7 linked regions of the Homo sapiens genome follow. The protein of the gene in region 5 purifies or fractionates together with the protein of the main gene of each other region. This does not show direct contact. Each region holds a gene or a part of one and is shown on either strand. Other genes may lie near its edges.

Evidence for each region.
Region 1: the proteins of ARPC2 (region 5) and L1TD1 purify together in Homo sapiens (co-immunoprecipitation; one large-scale study listed by IntAct). This does not show direct contact.
Region 2: the proteins of ARPC2 (region 5) and KIFC1 purify together in Homo sapiens (affinity purification with mass spectrometry; one large-scale study listed by BioGRID and IntAct). This does not show direct contact.
Region 3: the proteins of ARPC2 (region 5) and ASL fractionate together in Homo sapiens (co-fractionation; one large-scale study listed by BioGRID). This does not show direct contact.
Region 4: the proteins of ARPC2 (region 5) and CLCC1 fractionate together in Homo sapiens (co-fractionation; one large-scale study listed by BioGRID). This does not show direct contact.
Region 6: the proteins of ARPC2 (region 5) and SIK3 purify together in Homo sapiens (affinity purification with mass spectrometry; one large-scale study listed by BioGRID and IntAct). This does not show direct contact.
Region 7: the proteins of ARPC2 (region 5) and BOP1 purify together in Homo sapiens (affinity purification with mass spectrometry; one large-scale study listed by BioGRID and IntAct). This does not show direct contact.

The regions. Positions count from the first base shown.
Region 1 is NC_000001.11:62,193,577-62,197,648, reverse strand, and holds the start of L1TD1 (LINE-1 type transposase domain-containing protein 1), read right to left. Parts: upstream 2,801-4,072; 5' UTR 2,728-2,800; intron 1,215-2,727; 5' UTR 1,121-1,214; intron 1-1,120.
Region 2 is NC_000006.12:33,394,823-33,398,322, forward strand, and holds part of KIFC1 (kinesin-like protein KIFC1), read left to right. Parts: intron 1-3,206; coding exon 3,207-3,344; intron 3,345-3,465; coding exon 3,466-3,500. UniProt on the Homo sapiens protein: Minus end-directed microtubule-dependent motor required for bipolar spindle formation. May contribute to movement of early endocytic vesicles. Regulates cilium formation and structure.
Region 3 is NC_000007.14:66,078,819-66,082,318, reverse strand, and holds part of ASL (argininosuccinate lyase), read right to left. Parts: intron 517-3,500; coding exon 322-516; intron 1-321.
Region 4 is NC_000001.11:108,942,985-108,946,484, forward strand, and holds part of CLCC1 (chloride channel CLIC-like protein 1 isoform 1 precursor), read right to left. Parts: intron 1,074-3,500; coding exon 852-1,073; intron 632-851; coding exon 491-631; intron 1-490. UniProt on the Homo sapiens protein: Anion-selective channel with Ca(2+)-dependent and voltage-independent gating. Permeable to small monovalent anions with selectivity for bromide > chloride > nitrate > fluoride.
Region 5 is NC_000002.12:218,251,519-218,254,848, forward strand, and holds the end of ARPC2 (actin-related protein 2/3 complex subunit 2), read left to right. Parts: intron 1-2,372; coding exon 2,373-2,397; 3' UTR 2,398-2,830; downstream 2,831-3,330. UniProt on the Homo sapiens protein: Actin-binding component of the Arp2/3 complex, a multiprotein complex that mediates actin polymerization upon stimulation by nucleation-promoting factor (NPF).
Region 6 is NC_000011.10:116,857,429-116,860,928, forward strand, and holds part of SIK3 (serine/threonine-protein kinase SIK3), read right to left. Parts: intron 2,177-3,500; coding exon 1,837-2,176; intron 1,272-1,836; coding exon 382-1,271; intron 1-381. UniProt on the Homo sapiens protein: Positive regulator of mTOR signaling that functions by triggering the degradation of DEPTOR, an mTOR inhibitor. Involved in the dynamic regulation of mTOR signaling in chondrocyte differentiation during skeletogenesis.
Region 7 is NC_000008.11:144,274,439-144,277,938, reverse strand, and holds part of BOP1 (ribosome biogenesis protein BOP1), read left to right. Parts: intron 1-1,634; coding exon 1,635-1,715; intron 1,716-3,500. UniProt on the Homo sapiens protein: Component of the PeBoW complex, which is required for maturation of 28S and 5.8S ribosomal RNAs and formation of the 60S ribosome.

The sequences.
Region 1 (4,072 bases), on a different chromosome or scaffold from region 5:
CCTCGGCCTCCCAAAGTGCTGGGCTGGGTGCGGTGGCTCAAGCCTGTAATCCCAGCACCTTTCGGGGCAGCAGGAGCACTTGAGGCCAGGAATTTGAGACCAGCCTGTGCAACATAGCAAAACCATCTCTAAAAAACTTTTTTAGATAATAAAAAATTTGGAATATATGAGCTTCTTAACCTACTACTAAACAAGATTGAGTAGCAGGACTAAACTATATATATATATATATATATATATATATATATATAATTTATTTTTTTTGAGAGGGCGTCTCACTCTTGCCCAGGCTGGAGTGAAATGGCAGGATCTCGGCTCACTGCAACCTCCACCTCCCAGGTTCAAGCGATTCTCCTGCCTCAGCCTCCCACGTAGCTGGGACTACAGGAGCGTGCCACCATGCCCAGCTAATTTTGGTACTTTTTAGTAGAGATGGGGTTTCGCCATGTTGGCCAGACTGGTCTCGAACTGCTGACCTTAAGTGATCTGGCCTCCTCAACCTCCCAAAGTGCTGGGATTACAGGTGTGAGCCACCACACCTGGCCCTACCTTTTAATCTTGAAGTAGTGAGAATGCAAAACCTGCAACAACTGTTATGTGAAACAAAATGTGGTTTCTAGCGATGACGAACTGTGGGTTCTGCTAATAGCACCAGACTGCAAAAGGGTCCTGACCCACACTAGATTATAAGTAGGGCTCATTTCTTTATCAGACCCAAGGTCATTTCCCTTGTTTCACTCTAAAATACCCCTCCCCAGTCCAGGCGCAGTGACTCACGCCTGTAATCCCATCACTTTAGGAGATGGAGGTGGAAGGATCACCTGAGGTCAGGAGCTCGAGACCACCCTGGCCGAATGGCAAAACCCCGTCTCTACTAAAAATACAAAAATTAGCCGGGTATAATGGCAGGCGCCTGTAATCCCAGCTACTTGGGAGGCTGAGGGAGTAGAATCGCTTGAACCCAGGAGGCGTAGGTTGCAGTGAGCGGAGATGGCACCATTGCACTCCAGCCTGGGCGACAAGAGCGAAACTCCGTCTCAAAAAATGAAATACCCCACCCCAACCCCACCCGCACACTTACCCGCCACTAATCCTACCCCTAATCCACTAAACTACTTACCAAGTCTCAGCAGTTCATCCGCCTCTGTACCTTCGCTGGGAAGACGAACTCCGCAGAGCAGGACTCGGGTCTACTCTAAGCTGTGCCTTGGTGCCTAGAATTCAAGTCAAGTTCATAACACCAAAGTTTAAGGTTTATTTAATGTAGAAAATCACCTTATATTGAAGACTGGGAAAAAAAAGCACTTATCTATGCATGTGTTTGCTTAAAAAGGCACACACAATTAGCAGAGTCTGGGGTGTAAGTCGGGAGAGGGCTGCAGGGAATGGGAGGACCCAGAGGTGGATCTGAGGAGGCCAGGGAGGGGCCGGAGAGAATGGTTTCTTCTTTGTGAGAGTTGGGGTCTATTATTATGGAAGGCACGCTTTCCTTTTGCAATTTGAACAAGAATTCGATTTGCCTAACAATCGGAGGAAATTGAAGAAAATGCAAAAGTTATTACTTCCAAATCAATTTTTCCAGTCACATAATTAAACACTTTTTTTTTTTTTTGAGACGGAGTTTCGCTCTGCCGCCCAGGCTGGAGTGTAGTGGCCCGATCTCGGCTCACTGCAACCTCCGCCTCCCCGGTTCAAGCGATTCTCCTGCCTCGGCCTCCCTAGTAGCTGGGACTACAGGCGCGAGCCAACACACCCGGCTAATTTTGTATTTTTGGTAGAGACGGGGTTTCCCAAGTTGGCCAGGATGGTCTCGATCTCCTGACCTCGTGATCCGCCCCCGCCTCGGCCTCCCAAAGTGCTGGAAAATAACACGCCCGGCCCTCCATCTTTTTTTATTTGAGACAGTTTCGCCCCTGTTGCCCAGTCTGGAGCGCAATGGCGCGATCTCGTCTCAGTGCAACCTCTGCCTCTCGGGTTCAAGCGATTCTCCTGCCTCAGCCTCCTGAGTAGCTAGGATTACAGGCATGCGCCACCACGCCTGGCTAATTTTGTATTTTTAGTAGAGACGAGGTTTCTCCATGTTGGTCAGGATGGTCTCGAACTCCGACCTCAGGTGATCCGCCCGCCTCGGCTTCCCAAAGTGCTGGGATTACAGGCGTGAGCCACTGCTCCCGGCCCCTCCATCCTTTTTCTAAAGCTAGGACTTGTCAAGCACCACCTCATTTTCTTGACTTTATTTTTTCTTCACAGAACTACTTTCATGTTTCCAATTTGGGGATAGATAAGTCTTAGGAGAGTTTTTTTCTCATTGCGCCACGGACAGTAAGGGAAAGAGCAGGGAGTCAAGTGAGGGGGCCAACTGCCTGCCCCTACCCGGGCCCCACGCACGCACCCGGATCAGCCTTGCCTGGGGCACCTCGGGCCTCACGTACCTGGGCCAGCCTTACCCGGGGCACCCCGCGCCCTTCGCGCCTGGACCAGCCTTATCCGGGGCACCCTGGACCTCACGCTCCTGGACCAGCCTTACTTGGGGCGCTGCGGACCCCACGCGCCTAGACCAGCCTTACCCGGGGCACCCCGGACCCCACGCCCCTGGACCAGCCTTACCCGGGGCACCCCGGACCCCACGCGCCTGGCCCAGCCTTACCCGGCGCGCCCCGGACCCCACGCGCCTGGGCCAGCCTTACCCAGGGCACGCCGGGCCCCATGCACCCGGGCCAGCCTTACCTGGCGAAAAAGGAATCCGCCTGGACGACTGAGGAGCGAACAAAGTGAGGATGGAGCCTTGTAACTAAGGACTGAGAGGATTCCCGATCTCTGGGGCTGGCTCCTCCCCTCCTGGTGTGTCCCAACCCCCTCTGTCTACATACCCGCGCCTCCTCCCCGGAAATCGCATTCCGCCCTAAGCAATTGCTGACTTCCATTGCTGCCCCCCGACTGAGTCCAATTCCCTCTGTCTCCACCGTGCCTCCGCTTGAACGAGCCCCACCCCTCAGACCCGACTCCAGACTCAAATCTGAATAAAGGCACCACTAAAGCGCCTCATCACCCAGGCCTGAACCCCAAGGTCACCTCATTCCTTTTCTTCAACCCTCGCAGTTAATCCATTCCTAAGTCCTTGAATTTGCCGGCGTCTCTCCAACTCCACAGCTCCAGCCCAGTCCAAGCCCCCGTTGTCTCTCACCTGGATCACTGAAATCACCTCCAACTGCTCCCTGGCCTCTCCCACGACCCCTCTGTAATCCTTCTCCCCCTCCAATACTGTTCAGTGGCTTCCTGTTTCGGTTAAATTTCTACCTTCTCATTCTATCCGGACTGCCCCTTCAACATTGTCTTAGCACTACTCTTACAACAGAAACACTCTCTTTCTGTTCCTCAAAAAACACGGAACTACCTGCCTCAGGGCCCTTGCACTGGCTGTTTCCTCTGCGAGTTATTTTTTTCTTTTTCTTTCTTTCTTTCTTTCTTTTTTTTTTTTTTTGAGACAGTCTCTGTTGCCACAGCTGGAGTGCAGTGGCATGATCTTGGCTCACTGCAACCCCGGCCTCCTGGGTTCAAGCAATTCTCCTGCCTTAGCCTCCCAAGTAGCTGGGATTACAGGAGCACGCCACCACTCCCGGAAAATTTTTGTATTTTTTTTTTTTCTTTTTGAGACAGAGTTTTCTTATGTCACCCAGGCTGGAGTGCAGTGGCGCAATCTCGGCTCACTGCAACCTCTGCCTCCTGGATTCAAGCGATTTCTCCTGCCTCAGCCTCCTGAGTAGCTGAGATTACAGGCCCATGCCACCACGCCTGGCTAGTTTTTGTATTTTTAGTAGAGGGGGGTTTCACCATGTTGGTCAGGCTGGTCTTGAACTTCTGACCTGGTGATCCGCCCACCTCAGCTTCCCAAAGTGATGGGATTACAGGCGTGCGCCACCACGCCTGGCCACCTCTTTATTTTCCCAGTTCTTTCAGGATGGCTTCTGTTCATCCTCAGGTCTCAGGTCCAATGTTAACTCCTCTAACAGGCCTCCCAGACTACCCTTTCTACAGGAGCCAAACTCCCCATATCCCAATACTCTTTTTTTGT
Region 2 (3,500 bases), on a different chromosome or scaffold from region 5:
GATCGAGGTCTGAGCTGGACATATAAATTTGGAAACTGTCAGCATATCAATGATATTTAAAGGCATGGGAGTGGATAGTGAGTATAGATAGAGAATGCTGTTAAAATCTGGAGAGATGAGGAGGACCTGCCAGTGAGGTAAGAAAGAGTGGTCTCCTGGAAGCTAACTGAAGAAAGCCTATTAAGGAAAAGGGAGTAATCAGTTGTATCAGATGCTGTTTGATGGGTCAAGAAAATGAAGATAAAGAATTGACTTAGCAACATGAAGTTACTTGTGATCTTGAGGATAGCAATTTCGATGGAATGGTGGGAATGAAAGCCTGATTGCAATGGGCTTAGGAGAGAAATTGGCCACGATGAATACACTAGAGGTAATACTTTAGAGTTTTGCTGCGAAAGGCGGCAAGGAAAAAGGATAGTACCTGTTAGGGAAAGCAGAGTTCAGATTCTTTTAGTTTCGAAGAAATAATAGAGTTTGTGGTATGCCAATTGGAGTGATGCCATAGAGTACAAAGCTGATGGTGCAGAGGTGAGAAGGGAGGATTGCTGGAGGAATGTTCCTGAAACTGGGAGGATTTGGCGAGTCCAGGATTTGGTGAGGAGGGATGGGAATGTGATGCATATATGAAAGGGTTGCCTTAGGAGCAGGGCCATCCACCTCTGATCTTGTGGTGAGGTGGATGTAGGCAGGGTTGCATGAATATCTGTTCTTATAGAAGGTTAAGTGCTTATGCTTCTCACTGTGGAAAGTTGGAGGGCATCATTCTAGCTTTATATTAATAGATGGGAAAAATATATATACTGTGGTCTTTGGAGTTGTCCTGAATAAACAAACCTTTAAACACATTTTCTGAACCGGCATAAATTCCAAGGAGGTAGGTCTGTAGCAGATCCACTACGGTAGTGTAGAGAGGAGGAAGGGCACAGGTTATTTTTAAAAATTAGTGTTTGACTTTGGAATACTTAAAGAAAAATTTGGTTTCCATACTATATTTGATTACACTAAATTAAAATAAGCTTTCTTTGTGCACACTTCTGTAGGTGGCAGGAAAAATGCTACCTCTTTTTTTCCCTTTTTATTTTTATAGAAGCCAATGGTATGGATATATCACAGTTTAAGTATTGCCCCACTGATGAACATTCAATTTCATTCCTTCAAAAACTGTAGAGTCCTACCATGTAGCAGACATTGTACTAGGCCCTCTGGTTATATAGTTATGAACAAAACAGATGAATTCTTATGGTGCTCACAGTCTTATGTAGGGGTTATGATAATAAAAACAAAAGAAAACAGTGTATCAGGTTGTTTCATGATTTTTAAAAATAATGATGCTCTGTGAACTTCCTTGAGTAAATCTCACTGTATCACGGGTAGCTCAAACTCACTTTCCCAAAATTGAACTTAGCATCCATGAAACCAATCCTGCTGGGTCCAGTGGCATGTGCTTGTTGTCCTAGGCACTTAAGAGGCTAAGGCAGGAGGAGCACTTGAACTCAAAGTTCAAAGCCAGCTTGGGCAACCCTGTCTCAAAAACAAATAAACAAAAAACAACTCTTCAGGTACTCAGATCTCTGTGTTATTTCTTTTCTTTTTCTTTTTCTTTCTTTTCTTTTCTTTTTTTTTTTTTTTTTTTGAGACAGGATCTCAATATGTCGCCCAGGCTGGAGTGCTGGAGTGCAGTGGCATGATCACGGCTCACTGCAGCCTTGATCTGGGCCCAAGCCATCCTCCCACCTCAGCCTCCCTTGTAGCTGGGACCACAGGCAAATGTCATCTGGTTCGCTAAGGTGGATGTCTGCCTAGCTTAGCCCTCAAGCTTCTAGAATAGCCCCTTTCAACTAGGTTCCATGAGAATTAATTTCTTTTTTTTTTTTTTGAGACCGGAGTCTCGCTCTGTCACCCAGGCTGGAGTGCAGTGGCACAATCTTGGCTCACTGCAAGCTCCGCCTCCCGGGTTCACGCCATTCTCCTGCCTCAGCCTCCCCAGGAGCTGGGACTACAGGCGCCTGCCACCACGCCCGGCTAATTTTTTGTATTTTTTAGTAGAGACGGGATTTCACCGTGTTAGCTAGGATGGTCTTGATCTCCTGACCTTGTGATCTGCCCGCCTCGGCCTCCCAAAGTGCTGGGATTATAGGCATAAGCCACCGCGCCTGGCCAAGTTCTTTTTTTTTTTTTTTTTTTTGAGACGTAGTCTCGCTCTGTCACCCAGGCTGGAGTGCAGTGTTGTGATCTCGGCTCACCGCAACCTCCACCAATCGTTCAAGCGATTCTCCTCCTTGGCCTCCCAAGTAGCTGGATTACAGGCACATGCCACCATGCCTGGGTAATTTTTGTAGAAACAGGGTTTCACCATGTTGGTCAGGCTGGTCTTGAACTCCTGACCTCAAGTAATCTGCCCGCCTCAGCCTCCCAAAATGCTGGAATTACAGGCATAAGCCACCGTGCTCGCCCAGAATTAAGTTCTAATGCCCTTTTTTTTTTTTTTTTTTTGAGACGGAGTCTTACTCTATTGCCCAGGTTGGAGTGCAGTGGCGTGATCTCGGCTCACCGCAACCTCTGCCTCCCAGGTTCAGGCGATTCTCCTGACTCAGCCTCCCGAGTAGCTGGGATTGCAGGCATGTGCCACCACACCCAGCTAATTTTTGTATTTTTAGTAGAGACGGGATTTCACCATGTTGGTCAGGCTAGTCTCAAACTCCTGACCTTGTGATCTGCCCACCTCTGCCTCCCAAAGTGCTGGGATTACAGGCATAAGCCACTGCACCCGGTCCAGGTGAAACATTTCAAACATGGCTCAGTAAATATTGCCTGATTCTCCCAAGCAGTCTTCAACACTCACATATCTTCCACTCTCTCCCTTGTTTATGATTCTCAGCTCCAGCCAAAAGGGCCAGTTGGTTTCTTAGCCATGCTATGTACATATTTGAATTTTTGCCTTCCAGGAAGAGCATCCATTCCTCTCTGCTTGTTTGAGTCCCACCCTTAAAGTTAGTCAAGTCCAGCTTTTCCCCTAGAGGTTATTCCCACTTTTAGGTTATGTCCTCACTTCTGTTCATGCTGTCTGGCACATAATTCAGCTTTTGGCACAAGTGGTGCTCAGTGCTTGGTGGTGGTGTTGACAATTGAGGCTGGGGGCCAAGACAGGAAGTTCTTGGGACATTTGGGCTCCTGGGTATTGTCTTAAGGGTCTCTTTTCCCAACAGAGGTCCCCCCTATTGGAAGTAAAGGGGAACATAGAACTGAAGAGACCTCTGATTAAGGCCCCTTCCCAGCTGCCTCTCTCAGGAAGCAGACTCAAGAGGAGGCCTGACCAGATGGAAGATGGCCTGGAGCCTGAGAAGGTGAGCTGGGCATGGAGAGCTGTGCATGTGTGTGGGGGGTGTGTGTGTGTGAAAGAAAGGAGAGAGAGAGTATAAACCATTAGGGAGGGTGACTATGGACCTTGTCTTTATCTTTCCCCAGAAACGGACAAGAGGCCTGGGTGCAACGACCAAAAT
Region 3 (3,500 bases), on a different chromosome or scaffold from region 5:
CCAAGAGAGCCCCTGCCTTGGTCCCACCCTATCCCTGGTGACTGACTGTCCCTGCCCAGGAGCTGAGTCCTGGAAGCGCACCCTGGGAGGGGGCATCTCAGGCCCAGCACACCTTTACCCATGAGCCATGTGGGCCACAGGGGTCATTAAAGGATGGAGAGAGGCAGTCATCAAGGCACACAGTTAAACAGCACTTGAGTATATAATTAGTTCAATGTGAAACCACAGATGGGCAACACTGCACTGTTTGCTCAGGGATTTGGTGGGAGCCTGGGGCCACAGGGAAGGGGCCTTGGGTGGGGCTTGGGCCACGGCAAGTACCTTGTCTAGGCCATGGAGTATCTGGTCCATCTCGGCCTTGGTGAGGAGCCCTGCCTTCTCCAGGCCCCTGCTGTAGGCTTTGCTGCCTTGAACATCCACCTCCCAAAGGTGCCGGTCGTAGGCAATGGACGCGTTGAACTTCTCCATGATGGGGTCCACTGCACCCACAAACCGGCCACCCCAAAGCTTCCCACTCTGGCCAGGAGAGCAAGAACAATTAGTCTCTCCTCCACCCTCCAGAACAGTGCTTCTTGCAAAGAGTCTTTGGGAAACTTATCAAGTCTGATGGTAGCAGGGGCATCAGATCATTCTAACTGGGCAGACAAGGAGGCTGAGACCTTCCCAGAGTCACCACCCTGGGAGTGAGCATGGGAACATGGCTGAACACCAAAAGTTTGGGTTCTTTTTTTTTTTTTTTGAGACAGAGTCTCACTTTGTCGGCCAGGCTGGAGTACAGTGGTGCCATCTCAGCTCACTGCAAACTCTGCCTCCCAGGTTCAAGAGATTCTCCTGCCTCAGACTCCCAAGTAGCTGGGATTACAGGCACGTGCCACCACACCCAGCTAATTTTTGTATCATTAGTAGAGATGGGGTTTCACCATGTTGGCCAGGCTGGTCTTGAACTCCTGACCTCAGGTGATCCTCCCATCTTGGCCTCTGAAAGTGCTAGGATTACAGGCATGAGCCACTGTGTGTGGCCTTGAAGTTGGGGTTCTTTCCCACCACATGGCACCCCTCCAAGGAGATGATGGCAGGGCCTGAGACACCCCTGGGACCACAGCAGAACTTCTGGAACCTTTCCCACCACTGACCAAGGTGCTAGGTGCCATCCTAATTGTTGACACAACCCTCTGGGTAGGCACCAATACAATTCCACTATGAAGATGGGGAAACTGAGGCACAGAGCAGCCTGCTCTCACCTGGGGTGGGATAGCCAGGGCTGCGGCCCAGCAGTCTGAAGTCAGAACCTATGCTTTTCACCCCTGTTCCACCAGGGCTTCTGGACTTGGCTCTGGTGTCCAGAACCTTTGCTGCAGGGACAGGCAAAGAGGCCTTGAGGGTCTCCACCAAGCTTAAGTGCCCTGCAACTCTCTCCCTCACAGCTTGGAGCTGGACTAAGATCCCAATTCCTACCACTCCCTTGGCTCTGAAAAGCACCCTGACACCCCCCATTGTCACTGGCCTTCTAGGAGGTCACTGGGTGATCCCTTACTCCCCAGGAGCCAAGGGCAGAGGAATGGTATGTAGGCATCTATGTTTTGTTCGTTTTCTTTGAGATAGAGTCTCACTCTGTTGCCTAGGCTGGAGTGCAGTGGCGTGATCTCGGCTCACTGCAACCTCCACCTCCCGGCTTCAAGCCAATTTTCCTGCCTCAGCCTCCCGAGTAGCTGGAATTTCAGGCGTGTGCCACCACACCTGGCTGAGTTTTATATTTTTAGTAGAGACGGGGTTTCACCATGTTGGTCAGGCTGGTCTCGAACTCCTGATCTCAGGTGATCCCCTGACCTTGGCATCCCGAAGTGCTTGGGATTACAGGCATGAGCCACTGTGCCGAGCCTGTTTTGTTCATTAAAAAAATCTTTTTTAATTCTTTTTTTTTTTTTTTTTTTTTGAGATGGAGTCTCTCTTTGTCACCCAGGCTGGAGTGCAGTGGCAGGATCTTGGCTCACTGCAAGCTCCACCTCCCAGATTCACGCCATTCTCCTGCCTCAGCCTCCTGAGTAGCTGGGACTACAGGTGCCCACCACCATGCCTGGCTAATTTTTTGTATTTTTTTTTTTCAGTAGAGACGTGGTTTCACCTTGTTAGCCAGGATGGTCTTAATCTGACCTCGTGATCTGCCCACCTCGGCCTCCCAAAGTCCTGGGATTACGGGTGTGAGCCACCACACCCGGCCTTTAAATTCTTTTTTAGACACAGGGTCTCACTTTGTTACCCAGGTTGGAGTGCGGTGGCACCATCATAGCTCACTGCAGCCTCAAACTCCTGGTCTCAACCAATCCTCTTGCCTCAGCCTCCCCAATAGTTGGGACTACAAGCATGCGCCACCACACCCAGACATTTTTTTAAAATTTTATAGGACTGGGAGTGGTGGCTCATGCCTGTAATCCCAGCATTTTGGAAGGCTAAGGTGGGTGGATCATGAGGTCAGGAGACAGAGACCATCCTGGTCAACATGGTGAAACCTGGTCTCTACTAAAAATACAAAAATTAGCCAGGCGTGGTGGCACTCGCCTGTAGTTCCAGCTACTTAGGAGGCTGAGGCAGGAGAATCGCTTGAACCCGGGAGGCGGAGGTTGCAGTGAGCCAAGATCACGCCACTGCACTCCAGCCTAGGTGACAGAGCAAAACTCTGTCTCAAAATAAATAAATAAATGAACAAAATAAAATAAAATAAAATAATTGGTAGAGACAGGGTCTCACTATGTTGCCCAGGCTGGTCTTGAATTCCTGGGCTCAAGCTGTCCTCCAGCCTCAGCTTCCCAAAGTGCTGAGATTATAGGCATGAGCCTAGGCGCCAGCCACATCTATGTTTTGAAAGAGGGCAGAGGCCAGGGCATGGGACAGAGTGGGGAGGGGGTACAGAACACCTGGGGAGCAGCCCTAGTGCCCAGGACTGGGAGGAGGGTGGGGTAGAGGTGGGCATGTCACTTCACTGACGTCCTTTTTGTGGAAGGGAGTCTACAATGGCCAATGGGGACATATATCCTCCTCTGTCCCCCTACAATGCCCCAGACTTCTATTAACCACCTGGCCTGGCACCTATTATTAAACCTCAGGGGCTGGGCGTGGTGGCTCACACCTATAATCCTAGCACTTTGGGAGGCTGAGGTGGGCAGATCACGAGGTCAGGAGATGGAGACCATCCTGGCTAACATGGTGAAACTCCGTCTCTACTGAAAACACACACAAAAAAATTAGCCAGGCATGGGGGTGTTGGGCGCCTGTAGTCCCAGCTACTTGGGAGGCTGAGGCAGGAGAATGGCGTGAACCCGGGAGGCGGAGCTTGCAGTGAGCTGAGATCGTGCCACTGCACTCCAGCCTGGGCGACAGAGCAAGACTCTGTCTCAAAACAAAAACAAAAACAAAAACCCTCAGGGTTGGGAGGCCCAGGCAGGTGGATCGCTTGAGGTCAGGAGTTCGAGATCAGCCTGGCCAACATGGTGAAACCTCATCTG
Region 4 (3,500 bases), on a different chromosome or scaffold from region 5:
GGCTCACTGCAACCTCTCAGGTTCAAGCAATTCTCCTGCCTCAGCCTGCTGAGTAGCTGGGACTACAGGTGCACGTCACCAGGCCCAGCTAATTTTTGTATTTTTAGTAGAGACAGGGTTTCACCATGTTGGCCAGGCTAGTCTTGACCTCCTGACCAAGTGATCTGCCCACCTCAGCCTCCCAAAATGCTGGGATTACAGGCATGAGCCACCACACCCAACCCACCTGGCTTTATTCTGACTTAGATGCCCAAATGTTAACATTAACTGGGTTATGAAAATTAGGACTGAACTTTTTTACCCACTAACTGGTCAAGGAATCAAAAAACTGTCAGCTAAGAAGTGTCCATTTAATTCCTCTCCAGCGTGGGCCACCTCTAATCACTGCCTCCAACCCACATCCAAGGCAAGATTGCTCTCAATGGATTAGAGTCTTCTTTCATTGTGAATAAATGTGTTAAAATTGTAAAACCCTCCATCCATATAATACCTTATATAAATACATCCAATTCCATCCCAAACTGAACAGAAAGCTGATGATTAAAACACGTCTCAACTGAGTGTACCAACGTACATATGTCCACAGCTCAGTAGCCACTAAAACCACGATGCAGAGCAGACAAAGAAGTACCTTAAAACAGAGAGAAGCAGAAATCAGCCACCAAAAACACTTAAGACAGCTAAAAAGAACTGGACTCAAAAGCACAAAATCATTTCTACAATTTTGTGGCTTGTTCATCAATACGGTATAAGTGACCTAGTACAGGTTCTTAACGTAATTATGGTGGAGTTTGGAAAGTATTTTAAAAAGGAAACTTAATGACGTTGCCCTTGCCCTCATCCCATCTTACCATTAACACATTATATGGATCCACTCCAAAGGAATCTTCGAATCGCCACTTCCATGTTTCAAAATCATGAAACTTAAAATTAATTAAAATATCACTTAGTGCATCATCCAAGGCACCTGGTTTCCAGTCTTCTCCATTGAGAAACTTCTGTATTTCTAACAAAGTTTCTCTTTTAAGGATAATCTCAGCATCATAATGCATATCGCCTTTGTTTTCATCAGGCTAAATTAAATTTACCAAAAAACAAACAATAGAAAGAGAATTTTATTACTACTTGGTGAACCATTTTAAGACAAAAGCCAATTTGGAACTAAATATTAGTTTGCAGTATTTCATATGTATAAGAATAATAGCCTGGGCAAGGTAGCTCACACCTATAATCCTAGTGCTTTGACAGGCCAAGGTGGGAGGATAGCTTGAAGCCAGGACTTCAAGACCAGCCTGGGCAACAAAGCGAGACCCCATCTCTACAAAAAATTCTAACCATTAGCTGTGTGCAGTGGTGTGCACCTGGCTCCTGCCTACTCAGCAGGCTGAGGCAGAAGAATTGTCTGTGCCCCGGATTCGAGGCTGCAGTAAGCTATGAGCATACCACTGCACTCCAGCATGGGAGACAGAGTAAGACCCTGTCTCTAAAAAAAAAAAATAATAATAATATCCACCTGTCTTCACAGGCCAACATGAAAACCAAAGATAATATACATGAAAAACATTTAAAAATTCTAGAACTCTATGTAAAAAAGATACTGTAAATTTCACTAAAATACAGTTGATTCTTGCTATTCGCAGTAGTTATCGTCTTTTTTTTTTTTTAGATGGAGTCTCACTCTGTCGCCCAGGCTGGAGTGCAGTGACGCAATCTCTGCTCACTGCAAGCTCCACCTCCTGGGTTCACGCCATTCTCCTGCCTCAGCCTCCCATGTAGCTGGGACTACAGGTGCCCGCCACTACGCCTGGCTAATTTTTTCTATTTTTAGTAGAGACGGGGTTTCACCGCATTAGCCAGGATGGTCTCGATCTCCTGACCTCATGATCCGCCCGCCATGGCCTCCCAAAGTGCTGGGATTACAGGCGTGAGCCACTGCACCCGGCCTCACAGTAGTTATCTTCTATAAAGTCACCTCAAACACCAATTAGCAAGTACTGAACCATTACTCCTATAATAAATACAGGGTTTGGTTCGTGCAAACCTGTCATAACATTTTTATCAATTGATCAATATATAACCTTGTTTTATGTGTGTTTCTGTACATTCCTGTTTAAGGACACCTTATTTAAAATACATATTGTTCATTCACTAACACTGAACACATGGACAACTGTCCTATACCTTACGCTTGACTGAAGCCTATCTAATACACACCTTTTCCTTTTCTCTGTAAGTACATCGTGGCCTTCTTGCACTTAGAAACACTAGACCTCAGCTCAGCACTACATCAGAGGGCCGTTTTAAACAACGAAATGATGCTGTTTAATGATTGGTCTCAAAATAAAAATAAAAAAAATCACCCCTCTCCCCTCAAAAAAGCACGAAAAAATATACCACTAAATAGACCACAAAAAAAGACACTTGTTTGCAGTACGAGAGCTGAAACAAGAAAACAGTTTTGATTGCCTTGTTCCATCTCAGCTGGGAATGCCTGCAACAGGCAACCCAAATTTTTTACCACTCTTCACTGTGTCCCAGAGTAACCACAGAACACCTCGATTATTGACTTTGGGGTTACACAGACTTAATGAGGTCAATTCATAAATACGGAATCTGTGAAGAATGAGGATCAACTGTGCATCTTCATTTTATGATTCACTGCATGACTTTTCATTTCCTGACAGTTTTCAGATAGCCTAAAATCTGTATTAGTGCAAACAAGAAAAACAAGAAGGATCTCAAAGAGCAACAAAATAATGGGTTTCCATAAATTACATATTTATAACTACCTTTATTAGTGTGAGTTCAGCTTAGCAAAATCACTAAACAAATTTTGCATTAATTAGCCAGTTGATACAAATAAAATTCCTTTTTCTTTTATAAACAGTAAATACAAGGTGGGACATGGTGGCTCACACCTGTAATCCCAGCACTTTGGGAGGCCGAGGCGGTCAGATCACTTGAGGTCAGGAGTTTGAGACCAGCCTGGCTAACATGGTGAAATCCTGTCTCTACTGAAAACACAAAAATATTAGCCAGACGTGGCCGGGCGCGGTGGCTCATGCCTATAATCCCAGCACTTTGGGAGGCATGAGGCAGGCGGATCACGAGGTCAGGAGATCAAGACCATCCTGGCTAACACGGTGAAACCCTGTCTCTACTGAAAATACAAAAAATTAGCCGGGCATGGTGGCGGGTGCCTGTAGTCCCAGCTACTCAGGAGGCTGAGGCAGGAGAATGGTGTAAACCTGGGAGGCGGAGCTTGCAGTGAGCGGAGATTGCGCCACTGCACTCCAGCCTGGGTGACAGAGCAAGACTCTGTCTCAAAAAAAAAAAAAAATCAGAAACTAAATATTTTCCAGCATTTCCATCTTAAGTATTTTTGGTTCCATCTGTTTCCTTATCTAGGTTCTGTTCCACCCTGTACGTAGCTGTAAGGCTCAAATTACAGAGTGTACGTATGAGAACGCATCTGCTTCTACATTTCCAGAATAAGGTGG
Region 5 (3,330 bases):
TGTGATCCCCAGCCAGGCTCAACCTCCTGGGCTCAAGCAATCCTCCCATCTCAGCCCCCCAAGTAGCTGGGACCACAGGCATGCACCATCACAGCTGGCTAATTTTTGTATTTTTGTAGAGACGGGATTTCACCATGTTGTCCAGGCTGGTCTCGAACTCCTGGACTCAAGTGATCCTCCCACCTCAGCCTCCCAAAGTGTTGGGATAACAGACATGAGCCACCACACCTGGCCCAGCACTCAGTACTCTTGAGGCAAAGTTTTAGTGGGTGTGGTACGCCTAGGGCTTTACACTCTCTCTCTTGCATTTGAGGGCTCTTCTACCAAGTTAGTTTCTGCTGTCATTTGAAAGGATGAGAAAGAGATCAAGGACTTGAGCAGTAGGTGAGGGTTTTCAGACATTGTCAAAAAGCAGTTTAAGGCCAGGTGCGGTGGCTCACGCTTGTAATCCCAGCACTTTGGGAGGCCGAGGCAGGCGGATCACCTGAGGTCAGGAGTTGGAGACCTCCAGCCTGACCAACATGGAGAAACCCCATCTCTACTAAAAATACAGAATTAGCTAGGCATGGTAGTGCATGCCTGTAATCCCAGCTACTCTGGAGGCTGAGGCAGGAGAATCAGTTGAACCCGGGAGGCAGAGGTTGCGGTGAGCTAAGATCGCACCATTGCACTCCAGCCTGAGCAACAAGAGCGAAACTCCATCTCAAAAAAAAAAGCACTTTTTAAGTCACCTCGACTTCTTTAGGCAAAGGCCTGTCTCTGTAGCAGCTCAGAGAGGAGTGTCCAAATGCCATGCAATGAAATGGCAGCATCGTTTCTTTTCTGCAGCTTCTTGGGCAGATCTTTAAATGGGCAAAGTGACCAACAAGGTGGGTGGGCAGGTGAGAGGATGTGCTTGCTGCCTCTCCAGAACCTAGTCTCCATCCTGGTGTCTACATTTTCCCCTTTCCCTGCTTGCTCTACACAGGAGTACTTTTCTCACCGGGTACTTGTTTGGTGACCTGGAGTGTGAGGCAGTGAATTTCATGCTGCTTTCAGGGCCCAGTAGACAGGCAGTTCAGTAGAGGCCAAGAGGTAAACTGGCAGCCAGGTACAGTGAGAGGGAAGCCTGACCTGGCAGCCTGTGATAACCGGACTGGAAGGCTGGGCATCATAATAGTCTCAGGGCTGCCAGCATCACCTTTGGCACTGGTAGCTGCTTGTGCATCCAGGAGGAAGGCCTGTTAGGCAGCTGCTGCCCGATTCCACAGCCAGCAGGCAGTCGTGGGAGTCCCTGCCCAGTGAGTGCAGTTGTGTAGCGGGCAGGGATAGCTCCCTGTCCTGGTGAGAGACCCAGGAAGGGATGAATCCTTAAAATGAACAGACTGTTCATAAGCCTCCTCTCTGGGACTTAGAAAGAGCAACTTTGCCTTCTTCTGTGCTGCAGCTTCTCTTTGGCAGAGTTGGGCCCCAGAAAGGAGAAGCAGGAGACAAACAGCTGCATCCACCCTGAAAACCAGATTATGTTACTAATGGTGGGTAGGAGTTAAGTGACTCAGCTGTGGGCAGAAGCCAGGAACCCTCGATGGGCCGCCCAGAATTGAACACTCAGGAGCTTTTCATTTGGAGAGAAGGATAATAAGGTGTAGCTTCATTTTGGAATAAGCGATACATCCAAGACAGGGAAAATCTAGAGCCCATGTTTTTGCCCTGATTTCCCATAGTTCTCAGCTCTAGCTTCCAGGCTGCTTTCCCAGATACTGTTAGGTACCAGTTAGAGGCTCTGTCCTTGAGAACCACCTAGCCCATCTGGAGAAATACTGGGTGGAACAGGACACCACAATTCAGGAGCCTCGAACCAGGCAGGTGTTGTATAAGCCAGAGGAGGAGTCACCACGTGATAGCAGAAATACCTTTAGCCTTGGAAGTTCTGAGGATTGCTCTGAACCAGCCACCTGCCTTCATGGTGAGAGATAAAGGAACTGCTATCTGGGAGCCCTGAGAGGTATACACTGTGTAGGAGGAGCTGACAAATGAGGTAGTACTAAGAAGACGGTTTGAGCCTAGTCGGAAATTCAGGTACGTCTAGGCCATCCAGAAATTGTGAACAAGTGATTCTTCTATCTAACTTGGTACGTTGAATGTCCTTGTGGGCTTAACACTGATATTCCCGGGCATCCAAAGTATCCAATAGGAAGGAAGAGCTCGTGAAACCATTCTGTGAAAGCCAGATTTTAGCCGATGTCCTGTGGTTCCAGTGCCTCTGCTTAAGGAATCTAGCCCTTTCCACCTCTCATTTGGTGTTTCTTTGGGATCCCATCTAGTCTAGGAGTGTGGGGTGGGAGGAAAGGGCAGCCAGAAACTGACCTTCGCACTTATCTCTCCTTTTGAAGGGGGAAGACGTTTTCATCCCGCTAATCTTGGGAATAAGAGGAGGAAGCGGCTGGCAACTGAAGGCTGGAACACTTGCTACTGGATAATCGTAGCTTTTAATGTTGCGCCTCTTCAGGTTCTTAAGGGATTCTCCGTTTTGGTTCCATTTTGTACACGTTTGGAAAATAATCTGCAGAAACGAGCTGTGCTTGCAAAGACTTCATAGTTCCCAAGAATTAAAAAAAAAAAAAAAAGAATTCCACTTGATCAACTTAATTCCTTTTCTTTATCTTCCCTCCCTCACTTCCCTTTTCTCCCACCCTCTTTTCCAAGCTGTTTCGCTTTGCAATATATTACTGGTAATGAGTTGCAGGATAATGCAGTCATAACTTGTTTTCTCCTAAGTATTTGAGTTCAAAACTCCTGTATCTAAAGAAATACGGTTGGGGTCATTAATAAAGAAAATCTTTCTATCTTACATGAGAATTTGCTGGGTTTCTGGACTGCGAGTCCAAAGTGAGAAGAGAAGGAAGGAAGAAGGATAGACCTATACTACCCTTGAACCTGCAAACCTAAGCTGGGAAGCCCTAGTTTCAGGAGCCCATCAGGTTTAGATCCTCACCTTCCCTAGAGGAGAGAATGGCTGGCCAGTGAGCTATATTTAAACTTTTTTTTTTTCCCCCTGAGAGACAGGGTCATTACCTCCTGGGCTCGGGTGATCATCCCACCTCAGCCTCCCAAATAGCTGGGATTACAGGCGCATACCACTATGCCTGGCTAATTTTTTTTATTTTTAGTAGAGATGAGGTTTCGCCATCTTGCCCAGGCTGGTCTCAAACTCCTGGACTCAGGCAGTTTGCTTGCTTCAGCCTCTCAAAGTGCTGGGATTATAGGCATGAGCTATGGAACCCAGCGAGCTATTAATACAAACTTACATGCTTCCTTATAAAGCTTGGTCCCTGAGACTCTGTGGCTGCT
Region 6 (3,500 bases), on a different chromosome or scaffold from region 5:
GGTGCTCTGACTCTTGTTCCCACACTATTTACACTAAATTATGTTGGGCTGACTTTTTTTCTATTGCACAAGTTTAAAGTTAGCTGTTTGGATGGCAGTCAGGAATTTCTGGATTCCAAGAAACTGTGGTATGAATAAGGGAAATGGATCATCTATCTTATTGACTAAGTGTTAATTTTGTATCATGGTCCTTTGATTTTGAAAATGGACCCCTTGCCCACCAATACCCACTTCCTACATGCTTCTCCCCAAGAAGGTCGTGAAGCTCAGAAATTCTTTTTTTCTTAGGAACACAGAATACTAGCTGAAAAAAGATAACATTACTGAGTCAGTTGATTAGGGCAGACTGGCCCAGGACTTCCACTGTGAGGAGACACTTACCTCTGCTGGGCACCTTATTTTTACTGAATGCAGCAGTTGGCTGATGACCATAGGGATGTATCCCCAATTCTTGGGCATGACTCACAGTTCCTAGCAAAGATTCAGGGTCCCCAGGTCCACCGGTACTCAAGAGCAGAGGGCTGTCATGGCAACCTTTGGTCAATGTACTTGAACTCTTACTGTCTTGGAAGCCATCCTTGGCCCCCTCACACGAGCAGTCCTCCTCCATGCTCTCTGAATGCATCAGTGCCGGCTGGTGAGCATACCCGTGGGGCGGGGTGGGTGAGGAAGCCTGTGAGACACATTCTTGTGCCCTGATTTGTAGCAGATGCTGGGGGCTGGTGTGATGGTGATAAGAGTCAGCATTTTGATAAGATAAAGCCTGGCGCTCTGTCATGCTCTGTCCCCCAAGGCTGGGAGCCAGACTCCCCGCATCCCCTTGGTTCATGTGCCTGAACAGTTCCTGGTATTCTTGCTGTTGCTGCTGTTGCTGCTGCTGCTGCCGTTGTTGCTGCTGCCTTTTAATGAGCTGTGCAAACTCTGTTGGGGGCAGCCGGATGTCCGAGTGGCCGGTGAGCGAATGCCGGGGAGAAAGCAGTCCTTGAAGGATGTGGGGTACCTGCTGGTGTCTTGTATAGTCTGGCGGCGTGGGAGACAGCAGGGCCTGCTGTAGTGCCGACGTGGTATAGTGTGGCGGCTGCTGATGTGCACTGGGAGGGAAGGTGGGGAATTGGTCAAGTGGAGGGACTTTCAGGGCTTGGGTTGGAGAGAACCCCACTCCTGTTGAAGGGCTGTAGCTGCTGGGGGAACCCCGGGACTGGTCCGAAAACAGATGGGGGTGTAAATGCGCCTGGTCGTAGTTAGCAGGGGAGAACCGATTCACGTTCAAGCTGCAGACACAAAAGGGAGTACCAGACATCCATGTAACAAGTACTAGACTTCCTGGGAACAGCTCCTCCTCCTCAGTAGGGAGAACCCACTGGTACAGAGAACTGTGGTGTGACAGAGAAGTGGCAGATGTATGCATTGTCCCTATTTATTCCATTACTGGCTTGTCCAGTAACCTCCAAGGGACTGAGGGCACTGCGTGGGTAATAGATCTAGCTCATTTTGAAGGAAGCAACTTCAAGATGCTCCCTTCAAGAAAAGGGGAACTGGAATTTTTATACATTCCTCTAACAGGCCATTTTCTTCTTTGCAAGCAAATAATAAGGTAGCAAATAATAAGGTAGCTTTCCCATTTTCCACCTCAGTCTCATTAGAATTTTAACCCTGGGTCAATAAAAAGCTGACAAGTTCATTCCAAACCCAGCATCCTGATTTTAGAAAGCGTGAAACAAGAGCACAGCCTAGTCAGACCCATTCTCCTTCCCTCCTTTTCTCTCACTCTGCTAAGGGGCTTCCTCCCACCTGGATCCCATGCATAGATGGCTGGGTGACGTTAGGCGGTCTTACCTGTGAGCCTCTGCACTGTCAGCACTCAGCTGCTTGGACAAGGGACGGTGCCCATAGCTGAGGGTGGCCATCAGGTTGGTACGGTGCTGCATCTGCATCTGACCAGCACTGGGGCTGATGGAGATGCCGCGCCCACTGGAGCCTGCAGCTGTGCCTGGCATGTTGCTGAGCATGTCAACAGGCTCTTGGACTTGGATGGTGACCTGCTGTGACTGAGCAGGCTGCTGCATACCCAAGCAGGTTAGTGCCACGTTGGGAGGAGAGGAACAGTTCTCAGGTTGCTGCTGAAAGATTGCACTGCGGGAAGGTAAGCCTTGAAACTGGGAAGAAGATGCAGCCCCTGGAGAGAAAGGAACCTCAGAGTGACCAAGTGCCCAGGCCACCAGCCAGCCAGAAGTAATGAGAGCTAATGAGAATACTCAGACGACATACCAGCTAGAACAGTGCTTCTCAAACTGCACTGAGCATAGGACAAGTCTGGAGAACTTGTTAAACAGAAGATTCCTGGGTCCTATCTATATAATTCTGTTTCAAACTCTGATTCAGTAGGTCAGGATGGGCCCCTAAGAATTTGTGTTTCCAACAAGTTCCCTTAAAAGCTGGTCCATGGATTACATGGGGTAACTCGGATCTAGGCAGTGCTTCTTGAACTTTCACATGCACACAAATGGCCTGGCATCTGGTTAAAAATGCAGACTCTAGGCCGGGCGTGGTGGCTCACACCTGTAATCCCAGCACTTGGGAGGCCGAGGTGGGCGGATCATGAGGTCAGGAGTTCGAGACCAGCCTGGCCACCATGGCGAAACCCTGTCTCTACTAAAAATACAAAAATTAGCTGGGTGTGGTGGCGGGCGCCTGTAATCCCAGCTACTTGGGAGGCTGAGGCAGGAGAATCATTTGAACCCGGAGGTGGAGGTTGCAGTGAGCCGAGATCATACCACTGCACTCCAGCCTGGGTGACAGGGGGAGACTCCATCTCAAAAAAAAAAAAAACAGACTCTAACAGGTCTGGAATACGACCTGAGATCTTACTTTTTCTCCCAATATTGGTGGCTGGGGGACCCCACTTTAAGTAGGAAGAGCCTAGAGGCCAATTCAGACTCTTCTCAAGGATCCTAGGGAGACTGACTAGGGACGTAGCTCGTGGAGTGTTACTCAAGAGATCCTAAGACGGCTGACCTCTGAAGACTCACAGTCACATTATACTTATCTTCACTCCCATCTGTACACCCACAAGAGAGGGGCCCACGTGTATAGTAGACAGCCAAACGGAGGCATGTCTATAAGGAAGGTTCTGGTAGCTGCTTTTTATTTGGTAGGGCTGGAGGTTTTGTTAAAAATATTAATAATAGTAAACCTTTATTGAGAACTATTTTGTGCCAGAGACTGTTCCAAGTGTTTTACGTATATCTACATACTGTACCATAATTATCCTCAGTTGACATTTGAGAAGTAATATGGTTTGGCTCTGTGTGTACCCACATCTTGAAGTGTAGTCCCCATGTGTCAAGGGAGGGACCTGGTGGGAGGCGACTGGATCACGGGGCAGTTTCCTCCATGCTGTTCTCATGATAATGAGGGAATTCTTGAGATCTGGTTGTCTGATAAGTTTCTGGCGCTTTCCCCTGTGCAATCTCTCTCCTGCCACCATGGAAGATGAGCCT
Region 7 (3,500 bases), on a different chromosome or scaffold from region 5:
GGCCTTTTCCTCTAATTTTTAAGTTAAAAAAAATACGTTCAATGCCCCACAGCATCTGCCTCCAAAATCTGAAGGGGCCTTCTAGGTCAGGCAGTTCCCAGCAGTGGCCGCCCCTGCCCGCACCGCCCCTGCCCGCACCGCCCCTGCCCTTCGGGCGCTGGGCCTGGCTGAGCGCCGTCGCCCCCTGGTGGACTCTGTGCCCCACAGCTGTCCCACGGGGATGCTGCGCCCCTGGGAACCCAGCACCTTCGAAGGCCACCTCTGCCCCCTGCCCAGAGCCTGCCTGTGCCGTGGCCTGTCCACATCCAGCACAGGGGCCACGGGGCACAGAGCGCTGGGTGACAAGTCTTTTGTCACCTGCCAGGACCCTGGGACTGCGGCCCATGAGCAGCGAGGCTGGGACTCCAGCGTGCGGTGCTTCAGCCCCGGCCACTGTGAGGGGTCGGGAGCCCAGCCCGGTACCCGTCCGCAGAGGCCAGGCGGGGGCAGCCGACCGCAGCCGGGTGTGGAACTGCCCTTGTGCGCGTCTGGGGCTTGGGGCCGGGGTCACGGATCTGCTGCGGCTGTGGGGGCTCATGTGCTCCAGGCAGGGGCAAGAGCTCCGTGTCACTGAGCGCCCCAGGCCACTGTCAGCAGCAGGGGGAGACGTGGAAACTGAATCCTTCCTTGTTCCTGGCCTGGGAAAAAACTTAGTCTCCCATCTCTCTTTATATTGAAGGAAAAAACAGGCAGGGGAGGAGCCCGGGCCGGAGAGAAGAGGGGCTCGGGGTGGGGGCGGGGGCGTGCCCGCCTTCGCTCTGGGGTTCCTGCGCCCGAGCACTTTACTGCCCCCACGGGTGAGAGGTGGGCCTGTTTTCCCCATCAGCCTTGGTTCCGCCAGTAAACCCGATCCGGTTGGAGCCATCCTCACCTCCGCAGTCGAGGGCAGAATCTGTTTTCCAGGTTGGGATGTGAATTCTCAGTGGCGCCCACTCTGTGACCCGGCGGGATGGGGTCAGCCTGGGCTGTGGACGTGGTGGGTGGGAGAACGCTGGGCAGGCCTTCTGAGTGTTCGGGGCCCTCTCTGGGCCCTCTGCTGGCTGGACTGGGCGGGACGTGGCCCCCGGGATGGGTGGACAATGTGTGTCCCCCGCCCCTTCAAGAGCATTGGCCCCAGTGACCCTGCTGCGACGGCTGCGTCTCCTTCTTCCCCCCGACCATGCTGCCCCCGTCCCAGGCGGGGCTCGGCAGGAGCGCCATGTGGGGCCCCTGGGAGGAGTCCTGTGGCTTTGACATGAATGGGGGTACGGGTGGTTGGCGGTGGGTCTTGGTCCTCAGCTGGCGGCTTTGCTCCTGACTGCCCCAGTGGCTTCCGTGTCTAGCCTGACACCCGTGTCAGCCCAGGGACAGAGGCCCCGGGAGGCTGCAGTCCAGCCCTCACAGAGGACAGGGCCGTGGGCAGGACCTGCGGCGCCGGGTGCCAGCCACAGCCCCCAGAGGCCCCCTTAGAGCTGGGTGTTCTCGGCCTTGTGCTGAGGCCTGTGCCAGGCTGGAGCTGCTCAGAGATTTCGGGGTGGTGGGCTTCCTGGGATCCCCCCAAGGTCAAAGGGTACCCTGTATCCCCTGAAGTGACCATTTTCTCTCTCTCTCTGCAGGCCAGCACTCCTTGCCCGAGGACAGAGATGGCGAGCGCCCGGATTGGGGATGAGTATGCGGAGGACAGCTCTGATGAGGAGGTAGGACTGGGGCTGCTTCCCACTGGGCAGGGTGGGGCGGCTTCCATCACAGCCTAGCAGGTGCTGGGGGTTGGGGCTGGGGTTGCCCTGGGGGTGCTGGGACCTGCCGCAGGTGGGCCGCACTGTTGGAGCCGAGGCCCACGTGGGCGTCCTGCTTCCCCATCTGCAAGAGCAATTTCGGGGTCTGGGACACAAGACTGCAATGTATGTGTGTCATCATGGCTTGTGAAGGGGAAGGACCTGGGTGTGGCTCCATGCCCCTGTGTCTGGCCTGTGGACGGGCTCTGGGGGCTCCTGTGGCGTCTGCAGGGTGGCTGTGGGCTCCCTGGGCGTGGCGTGCATGGTCTGGGTGGGGGTCATGGTCGGGGTGGGGGTCACGGGCATGGGTGGTGCCCCTGTCGTGTGTGCTGTGGGGTGGGCCACAGGTTGGCTGGGGGCCAGGCGGGCAGAACAGGGCCAGGGCCACCTCCTAATGTCCTGATGTTCTGGGCAGTGGTGGCCCTTCCCTTCCCCTGGGGTCCCCCTGCCCCCCACCCCTGGTGGTGGCTGATGTGGGCTGGGGCCGTTGCCTCTGGACCTCTGACTGAGTCCCAGGAGCACATCTCAGGAGGGGCAGGAGGTCGGCTGTTTCTCATAAGGAGCTTGCAGGCGAAGGGGGATGCGTGCTGCTGGGCTGGGCTCCACCAGCGTGGAGAGGCTGGCACCGGGCTGGGCTCCGCCAGCGTGGAGAGGCTGGCACCGGGCTGGGCTCCGCCAGCGTGGAGAGGCTGGCACCGGGCTGGGTTCCGCCGGCGTGGAGAGGCTGGCACTGGGCTGTGTCCAAGAGCAGATTTGGCTGCGGGGGGCTGCCCTCATTTGGGAGGGGCTGGAAGCTCTGAGAAGCTCTGAAGCCAGAGGCAGTGCCTGCCTATACCCTCCTCAGTGTGGCCTGGCCCCAGGGTAGGACTGTGGTCCCAGTGGAGCACCTGGGTGTGAGGCAGAGTCTCCTTTGGGCCCTGGGGGCTGTGGGGGAAGGAGAAGGCTTTGGTGTAGGGCCTTCCTGAAGGAGCTCTTCCTGCCTGCCTGTCAGGAACTGTCCCCGGGGGGCCTGGGGGAGACACGCGCCCCCCTCCCCCCAGGTTCTTCCCCCATCCTTCGGCTCTCTTGGCTGTGGCTGCAGGAGCCTTGGCCGCCCGCCCGATCCGGTCTCTGCTGCGCGTTCAGAGAACAGAGACAAAACAAAATAAATTGGTTTCCTGGCCGGAGCAGCGGGCTCACTCAGAGCGGGGGGGCCACGCCGCGCACTCCCTGCCTGTCTCCCCTCCCCCTCCCAGGGGCTCTGGCTGTCGGCAGCCACATCCTGTCGGCTACTTTTTTATATTTGGTATTTTGAGAAATCGATGATGATTGTAAACGGAGCGCGGAGGCCGGGGGAGGGGCCTCGGCGGGGCCTGTGGGACCCTGCTGCCCCTGGGGGTGCTTTGCCAGGCCTGTCCAGTGCCACCGCCGCCTGCCGGGTGGGCAGCCCCCTGCTGTGCTGGGAGGAAGCCGGCCAGGGATGTGGGGGCTGCTTCCTCCAGTGATGACTATCCCATATGTTGGTCTGAGTGACAGCGAGGGAGCCCGGGTGCTGCCCGGTGCTCCTGCCAGCACAGCCGGCCAGTGGCTCGAGGGGGCGGCAGAGCTCAGCTTTCAGGAGCCAGGCCAGGCCCGGACAGATGCCTCCCGTCCAGAGAAGTGCGCATCTGCCTGGGCCTCTGTTCCCTTGGAGCAAAGTGGGGTGGCCCTAGGGGAGTGATTTGGGGC